Regions from separate parts of the Homo sapiens genome. Here region 1 is linked to region 2. Evidence: fine-mapped expression QTL. A gene starts in region 2. The other region holds a variant in brackets. All regions are shown on one strand. Distances are between the middles of the regions. Region 1 has its middle 33 kb from the start of SMKR1. Region 2 holds the start of SMKR1 (small lysine rich protein 1).

Region 1 (4,384 bases), 33 kb before region 2:
AGTACTGGGATTTCAGGGGTGAGCCACTGTGCCCGGCCAGAAGTGACTGCCTTAAGGAGACATTTCAGAGAAGAACAGGCAGATACGGGGGCAATGTCAAATCACCCCAAACAGGTGAAAATGAACACCATTAACTGGGAGGGCTGGCTGGGCTAGGCAGTCATCACGAAGGACTGGAAGGGGGCTCTGAGGGCCTAGGACACAGAGCTCACCCCGGAGTGTGAGGTTTTTCCGGTGCCACATGCAGAAGGCTGGCATCCCTCAGCTGGTCCACAGATCTGCTGTAGCCCTAATACTGAAATTAGGCATATACAGTAAACATAACAACAAAGACAACATTTTTAGCTCTGTTAGGCCCAGGATGAGAAATAAATTCACAACCTCAAAGGAAAATGGAAATGTCACATCCTTTTCAAGTTCCTGGTAGTACCTGTACATTCCAAACTGGAGAACAGACTATTCATTTACTTTGAAAATGGACTTTTTTTTTTTTTTTTTTTTTTTCCTGAGATGGAGTCTTGCTCTGTCGCCCAGGCTGGAGTGCAGTGGCTTGACCTTGGCTCACTGCAACCTCCACCTCCCAGGTTCAAGCGATTCTCCTGCCTCAGCCTCCCGAGTAGCTGGAATTACAGGCGCCCGCTACCACGCCTGACTAATTTTTATATTTTAGAGACGGGGTTTCGCCATATTGGCCAGGATGGTCTTGATCTCCTGACCTCATGATCCGACTGTCTTGGCGTCCCAAAGTGCTGGGATTACAGGTATGAGCCACTGTGCCCGGCAGAGAATGGGCCTTTTAAATTTTTTTTATATTTTTATTTACATTTTTGAGACAAAGTCTCACTCTGTTGCCCAAACTGGGGTGCAGTGGTGTGATCTCTGCTCACTGCAACCTCCACCTCCCGGGTTCAAGCGATTCTCCTGCCTCAGCCTCCTGAGTAGCTGGGACTACAGGCGTGTGCCACCATGCCCGGCTAATTTTTTTATTTTTAGTAGAGACGGGGTTTCACTATGTTGGCCAGGCTGGTCTTGAACTCCTGACCTCAGGTGATCCACTGCCTCGGCCTCCCAAAGTGCTGGAATTACAGGCGTGAGCCACCGCACCTGGCCTGAATGGACCTTTTTAAATGTAAGATTGTTTCTCCTAGTCTTCTTGTATTTACAAATTCCATGAAGACTAAAATTTAGAGTTCATCTCCGCAAATACTCCTCAATCCCACCTCCTCTCAACACAAAGATCTCTCTATATAATTCCTGATAAGAGAGCAACCTTTCGCTGAAGAGATTTCACAGAATTCTGTAGCCAACACTCTTTGTCATCCCATGTCCCAGCCAGCACTGTGACTGTGGAACCACCCAGACCTTAGACCCCAGGGTACCCCCGTACCCCTGTTTTCTAAAATGCCTGACTCATCCTGCCCAGGCTTTCATGAAGAAAGCGAAGTGAAAGCCTCCCACACGCCTTTAAAAATGTCTCCTCTAAATTCCAGTTGTCGTAGTAACATCTTCACGCTGCCTTGGTGCCTTTATATATTTTGGTGCTGATGGACCCTCCGTTACCATGAGAACAGAAGTAGATTTAAACAAAGAGAATTTTGTGGCACTTATCTTAATGTCTTATGGAAAACAAAACCCATGCCCACGGCGACCGCCTCAGAAGAGTTCAGAGGGTTTAACAATGGAATGGCAAGAAGTCCTGAGTTCCTGGGACCTAGAACGCCACTGGAGTTCCATTTCATTTGTTCTTCGAATTTTATTTTGAGGAAAATGTGCATCGTTGTTGTTTTTAAGATTCTGTTGCACCATTGCCATTCTGAAGTGAGCAGATCTGTTGTAAACGCATATTCTTACCTTCAGCTTTGAGGACAAACTTATCACTCCTACCACAAAATTGTAACCATTTCCTGAGCTGTGCTTCACTCTACCCCCACACCCCAGCCCCACAGCCCCTTGTGACAGGGCAGTGCCAGCTGAACTGATGTTCCCTGCTATTTCAGACTCAAGGTCTGTGCATCTATTCTTTCTTTCAAAGCTAAATGTTTGAAAAATGGAAGGTCTTTGAGCTCAAGGACATTAACGCACACTTCTTCAGCACTCTCTGCATAGTCCTAATTGTCAGTTTGTTCGACTTTTTTTTTTTTTTTTTTTTTTT[TTTG/G]AGACGTTGTTTTGCTCTTGTTGCCCAGGCTGGAGTCCAATGGCACAATCTCGGCTCACTGCAACATTCACCTCCCGGGTTCAAGCAATTCTCCTGCTTCAGCCTCCCAAGTAGCTGGAATTTCAGGCATCTGCCCCCACAACCGGCTAATTTTTGTATTTTTAGTAGAGATGGGGTTTCACCATGTTGACCAGGCTGGTCTCAAACTCCTGACCTCGGGTGATCCACCTGCCTCAGCCTCCCAAAGTGCTGGGATTACAGGTGTGAGCCACCATGCCTGGCTTTGACTTTAAACTTTCCATTCTGATGTACAGAATTAAGTTTCTGTTGAGAATTTTAAATAGTTAACTTCACAGGATTTGTATGTGGGAACAAACTTGAAGGTAGGAAGAAAGCAAACCCACAGTCTGAATAGCAGGCTGTGTCAGTGACACATTCCTTAATTAGTCCTTGAGAACACTAACATGTATTGTGTATTTACCACATGCTAGGCACTATGCTAACCACATAGCCTGTTGTCTTCATCTGTTTTCTGTAGCTATAACAAAATCCATATACTGGATAATTTATAAAGATAAGAAACTATTTCTTACAGTTTTGGAGGCTGGGAGTCTGAGTGCATGGCGCCGGCATGTTTCAAGGGCCTTCTTGCTGCTTTGTAACACTGTGAAGGGCATCGCATGGTGAAAGGGCAAGAGACTGTGTCAAGTTAGGTCTCTCTTCCTTGTTTTTTTTTTTTTTTTTTTTTTTTTGAGACGGAACTTGCTCTGTTGCCCAGACTGGAGTGCAATGGTGCAATCTCGGCTCACTGCAACCCTCCGCCTCCCAGATTCAAGCAATTCTTCTGCCTCAGCCTCCTGAGTAGCTGGGACTACAGGCCCGCGCCATCATGCCTAATTTTTGTATTTTTTTTTTTTTTAGTAGAGACAGGGTTTCACCATATTGGCCAGGCTGGTCTCGAACTCCTGACACTGTGATCCGCCCGCCTTGGCCCCCCGAAGTGCTGGGATTACAAGTGTGAGCCACCGCGCCTGGCCAGAGGAGGGAGATTTCATTCCCAGGCCTCTTCTCTTGGCTTGTAGGTGGCCGCCATTTTGCTGTGTTCACGTGACCCCTTCTTCGTGTGTACACGTGGAGAGAGAGGGCAAGCTCTCTGGTGCCTGTTCTTAAAGGGACTGTGAGGCCTCTGAGCCCAAGCTAAGCCATCATATCCCCTGTGACCTGCACGTATACATCCAGATGGCCTGAAGTAACTGAAGAATCATAGAAGAAGTGAAAATGGCCTGTTCTTGGCCAGGCGTGGTGGCTCATGCCTGTACTCCTAGCACTTTGGGAGGCCGAGGCGGGCAGATCACAAGGTCAGGAGATCGAGACCATCCTGGTTAACACAGTGAAGTGAAACCCTGCCTCTACTAAAAATACAAAAAAACTAGCCGGGCGTGGTGGCGGGTGTCTGCAGTTCCAGCTACTCAGAAGGCTGAGGCAGGAGAATGGTGTGAACCCGGGATGCGGAGCTTGTAGTGAGCCAAGGTTGCGCCACTGCACTCCAGCCTGGGCGACAGAGCGAGACTCCGTCTGGGGGTGGGCGGGGGAGAAAGGCCTGTTCCTGCCTTAACTGATGACATTCCACCACAAAAGAAGTGAAAATGGCCAGTCCCTGCCTTAACTGATGACATTACCTTGTGAAATTCCTTCTCCTGGCTCATCGTGGCTCAAAAGCTCCCCCACTGAGCCCTTGTGACCCCTGCCCCTGCCTGCCAGAGAACAACCCCCTTTGACTGTAATTTTCCACTACCCACCCAAATCTTACAAAACGGCCCCCACCCCTATCTCCCTTCACTGACTCTCCTTTTTCGGACTCAGCCCGCCTGCACCCAGGTGAAATAAACAGCCTTGTTGCTCACACAAAGCCTGTTTGGTGGTCTCTTTACGCAAGTGAAAGGGACACTAATCCCATCATGGGGATTCCACACTTGCGTTAGGGTTCTTCAGGGAGACAGAACCAATAAGATACATGTATATACGAAAGGGAGTTTATTAGGGAGAACTGGCTCACACGATTACATGGCCAAGTCCCACGATAGGCTGTCTGAAAGCTAGGGAAAGAGAGAAGCCGGTAGTGGCTCAGTTCGAGTCTGAAAGCCTCAAAACCAGGGAAGCCGTCAGTGCACCCTCCAGTCTGCAGCTGAAGGCCTGAGAGCCCCTGGGAAGTCACTGGTACAAGTCCCA
Region 2 (4,384 bases):
GCACCCAGTTTGAGACCAGTCTGGGAAAGATGGCAAAATCCGGTCTCTACAAAAATTTAAAAAATTAGCTGGGCTCAGTGGCACACACCTGTAGTCCCCAGTACTCAGGCTGCTGAGGTGGGAGGACCCCTTGAGCCCAGGAATTCAAGGCCAAAGTGAGCTATGTATGATGCCATCGCACTCCAGCCTGGGCAACAAAGCAAAACCCTATCTCTAAAAAAAAAAAAACAAAAACAAAGAAATTAATAAAGAAAGACCCTATAATGCCTATAACACATGGAATTATAATAGCACAAGATGGGCAAGGGCTGACCTCATCTGGGCCATCAAAGGAAGGGCTCCCTAAGCGTGGCCTGTGGGCCGAGAGTAGGGAATTCCAAGACCAACAGCCTATGCAAAGTCTCTGAAGCCGGAGAGAAGGTGCACAAAGAGACGGAAACCCAAAAAAGGCCAACATGGCCAGCCCACAGGCAGCCAAGGGGGCCAGTGAGAGCAGCTAAGGAAGGAAAGGTAGGCAAGGTTCCGCTCTGGCTTGCAGGCTCTGTGCACTAATGTGTTTGACCCTCATTCAAGGAGCATGAATTAACTGGCATTTGCTTCAATGGCTATGTACAGCATTCTGCCTCAGTTCCCTGGGCCCTGAAAGAAATGGCAGTTGGCTGGGCACAGTGGCTCACACCTGTAATCCCAGCAATTTGAGAGGCCAAGGCGGGCGGATCCCTTGAGCCCAGGCGTTTGAGACCAGCCTGGGCAACATGGCGAAACCCTGTCTCTACTAAAAATACAGAGATTAGCCAGGCATGGTGATGCCTGCCTACGGTCCGAGCTACTTGGGAGGCTGAGGCGGGAGGATCACTTGAGCCTCAGAGATGGAGGCTGCAGTCAGCTGTGATCACACCACTGTACTCCAGCCTGTGTGACAAAGTAAGACCCTGTCAAAAAAAAAAAAAAAAAAGGTAATAGCTCTTTACCTTTAATAGCTCATGGAATGACTCTCAAACCAAGAAATTTTTACTTAATCCTTTTACACGAAACAAACTGGAAAGAACACAGAAACTTAATGATTTCTACACTAGAGTCTAATGAGGAATAAGGCTTTCCAAGGAAAAACAGGCAAAGCACCAGAGGTGAGGTGCAAAGGGCTGTGGGCGCTGAAGGAGCGATGGGGAAGCAGGAGGCAGGGTCCTTCTGATCCAAGCCTCAAAGAAAACGGATCAAGACAGGGAAGGCGCAAGGGGCTTCCAGAAGAACGCGGGTTTAGTGTGGGATGCAGGGTTTTTGTTCGTTTTGTTTGTTGTTGTTTAGCAGAGAAGATATGGCAGAGAAAGCTCGAGGTTGAGGCCCCTTTAGCAAGGGCTCTGTGCGCCCAGCTCAAGCGTGCAGTACTTAGTTTAGCAGACAATGATGCCTCCCTGAGGACTTGGGGCAGGGGCTGGAAGGTCACAGCCCTTCTGGAAAGAGCAGCGAGGGTTGGAAGGAGGTCGTAAGTGACTGGATGAGGGCTGAGAACAGGAATGCTGTTGACAGCAAGGTGGTGGTACCAGGCTCACTCTCTGCTTCCTGAGTCTGCAGAGCAGTGGAGAATCCCGCGCGGGCACCCAGGGTGGCTACGGCAGCTAACAGCTCGGACCCGTCACTGTGGGCATGGCCTGGCGCCCTGACGTGCCACACCACGGTGCCACCCTCCCTTTATTTTCCACATCAACCGTCTGGGTGTGGGGGCTGCTCAACAGGACCACGACCTAAAACCTGGAAAGACGGCTGGCCTGACTCCGCGGCTGCTGCGCCCCCAGCAGGCGCGGACCGCCGGGCACCCCTTGTCCCTCCATCTTTTCGCCACGCGTTGAGGTCGACCCCAGGGAGAGGCGGTGACCTCGGCGCCCGCGCCTCTCCGGGACAGCCTGGGGCTCCACGGCGCGCGCCCTGGCCCCGGGTACTTTAGGGAGACGGGGATTACCATGGCGATTCTCAGCCGAGCAGGCAGGCGTGGTGGACTCTCCCGATCCCGAAGCCCTTAGCATCCACCGGGGCCGCTGCCCCCAGCGCCCGTTCCCCTAGCACCCCCGGCCCCTTCTCGGCCCTCCTCAGGGAACCGCCACGGGCCCAGCCTCACTACGCCTCCCCGCCACGCCTCGCTGGGAGGAGCGCGGCCGGCTCGGGAGGCAGCCAGCCGCGGAGCCGCCTGGACGCGAGGCACCTGCTTGCCCCACGCGGCACCTAGGCCGCCGCAGCTGTGGGCGCTGGGCCGGCGTGCGCCTCGGGGGCGGGGCCGCGCGCACAATCACCGGGCGTGGGGCAGGGCCTCGCCGTGGTTACCGTTGCCAGGGCAAAGCGGCAGCGCGCGGAGGGTGAGCGGAGCGGGGTTCCGGGCTTGCGCGCGCGGGATGGGCCGTCACCTAGTACGAGGCCGACCGCGGCCTCCAGCGCCCGGAAACCCAGTTCGGCGCTTTAGCGTCTGGGTTTGGGCTGCCGGAGCGGCGGGCGCGGGGCGAGGGGGCGGGCGCGGGGCGAGGGGGCGGGCGCGGGGCGAGGGGGCGGGCGCGGGCGGCGCTCCCACTGGGGTGGCACTGGGGTGAGAGCGCAGGCTAGGCCCGCTCACTCGGCCAACCTGGGAGAGATCATCGGAGAAGCTCTTTTGGGAAACGAGCATAAGGACTGTGACGGTGAAGGGAGAATATCATGGGAAATGTTTGCAAAAGAGCCGGATAAAGAGAGTAAGGGCCCGAGAGACTAAAGGGGTGGGGAGGGAGTTCATGTGCAGGTAGGATTGGGCGAGAAAGGTACAGTAGGTACAGTTTTGCCTCCAACCTTGCCAGTTCCAGCCTCCCTCCCTGCAGGTGAAGTCTACACTTCGGGTGGTACGACTCATTCTTTTTTATGACTGGTCATTCCTTTTTTTTTTTTTTGAGACCGAGTCTCTCTCTGTCGCCCAGGTTGGAGTGCAGTGGCGCCATCTCGGTTCACTGCAACCTCCGCCTCCCAAGTTTAAACCATTCTCCTGCCTCAGCCTCTTGAGTAGCTGGGATTACAGATGCGTACCACTATGCCCGGCTAATTTTTGTATTTTTAGTAGAGATGGGGTTTCGCCATGTTGGTCACGCTGGTCTCGAACTTCTGACCTCAGGTGATCTGCCCGCCTCAGCCTCCCAAAGTGCTGGGATTACAGACGTGAGCCACTGCCCGGCCTATCATTCCTTTTTATTCAACAGTTATTGAGCATCTGCCACGTGCCTGACACTCTTCCAGGCCCTGGAAATTGAGCTCTGAATGAGGCAAAGTCCTTGTTCTTTTAAGGGGTGATTTGGGGGAGGTGGTCGTGGCTGAAATGGAGGGCCTGGCAGACATTAAAAGTGATAGGGACAGTATGGCATATTGCATTAAATTGATGTGACCACTGGGTGCTCTTTTAGATTGGTGACTGGGGAAGGCCTCTCTGAGGAGGTGACGTTAAAACAGATCTGGATGACAAGGAGCAGTCAATTATGCCAAAATTAGGGACAGGGGGAGGAGGCTAGACCAAGAAGCAGGAGTAGGGTCCTGGAAGGCTCTGCAAGGATGTGGTGTTTTGTTTGCTTTCTCTTGAAAGACAAACTGGCTTCCAAAGAGGACTGTTTATGTTCTAGGTTCTCTTACATATGCTTTCCCTAATCCTTCATTAACAGAGCAAACCCAACTTCCAGCTACTTTTAATATGTCTGTGAGTTTTTCTTATGAGTCCATATGCCCTGGATATGGCAAATTCTCCTGCCCTCCACCTGCACTTTCTTCTCTTCTTGCGCCTGTCTTCATCCCTGGATGGGGCTGGCCCACCCCAGCCGCTTACACTTCTCTGGGTTATCTCAGCTCTCCCAAGGTTACCCCTATGGGATCACTCCCAAATCTGTTCCAGCCCTGCTTTTCCTGAGCTCCAGATCAGAGATCCAGAGCCCTGCTACAAGGTTGTTTTGTTTTCTTTCTTTTCTTTTCTTTTCTTTTTCTTTTCTTTTCTTTTTTTTTTTTTTTTGAGATGGAGTCTTGCTCTGTTGCCCAGGCTGGAGTGCAATGGCACGATCACTGCTCACTGCAACCTCTGCCCCTTGGGTTCAAGCAATTCTCCTGCCTCAGCCTCCCAAGTAGCTGGGATTACAAAGCATGCGCTATCACGCCCGGCTAATTTTTGTATTTTTAGTAGAGACAGGGGCCAGGCTGGTCTTGAACTCCTGACCTCAGGTGATCCGCCTGCCTCGGCCTCCCACTGGGATTACAGGCGTGAGCCACTGCTCTGGCCTCCTGCTACAAGTTTTAAAACTCAGCTGTCTTGAAAGTAGATCAGTGGTCGAGGTGTGCCATGGGTGGGGGAGGATTGACTCTGCGGTGGGCTAAGAGGAAAATTCCTGAGTGATGG

What was found. PIP is the estimated chance that this variant, and not a neighbour inherited with it, causes the effect.
Region 1: its variant is the best candidate, but not a certain one, in a credible set for the expression of SMKR1 in whole blood (INTERVAL, PIP 0.72).

Annotation. Positions count from the first base shown.
Region 1 is chr7:129,533,629-129,538,012 of GRCh38, reverse strand. No RefSeq gene overlaps it. Among named protein-coding and RNA genes, the nearest start is that of SMKR1, 33 kb to the right of the region's middle. RefSeq lists enhancers at 3,134-3,651, 3,652-4,169. The variant TTTG/G (reference allele first, on the strand shown) is at 2,153.
Region 2 is chr7:129,500,401-129,504,784 of GRCh38, reverse strand. It overlaps SMKR1 (small lysine rich protein 1), which reads right to left and starts at 2,254. Exons shown (of 2, transcript NM_001195243.2): 1 at 1,958-2,254. The coding sequence starts at 1,960. RefSeq lists silencers at 2,106-2,445, 2,506-2,555.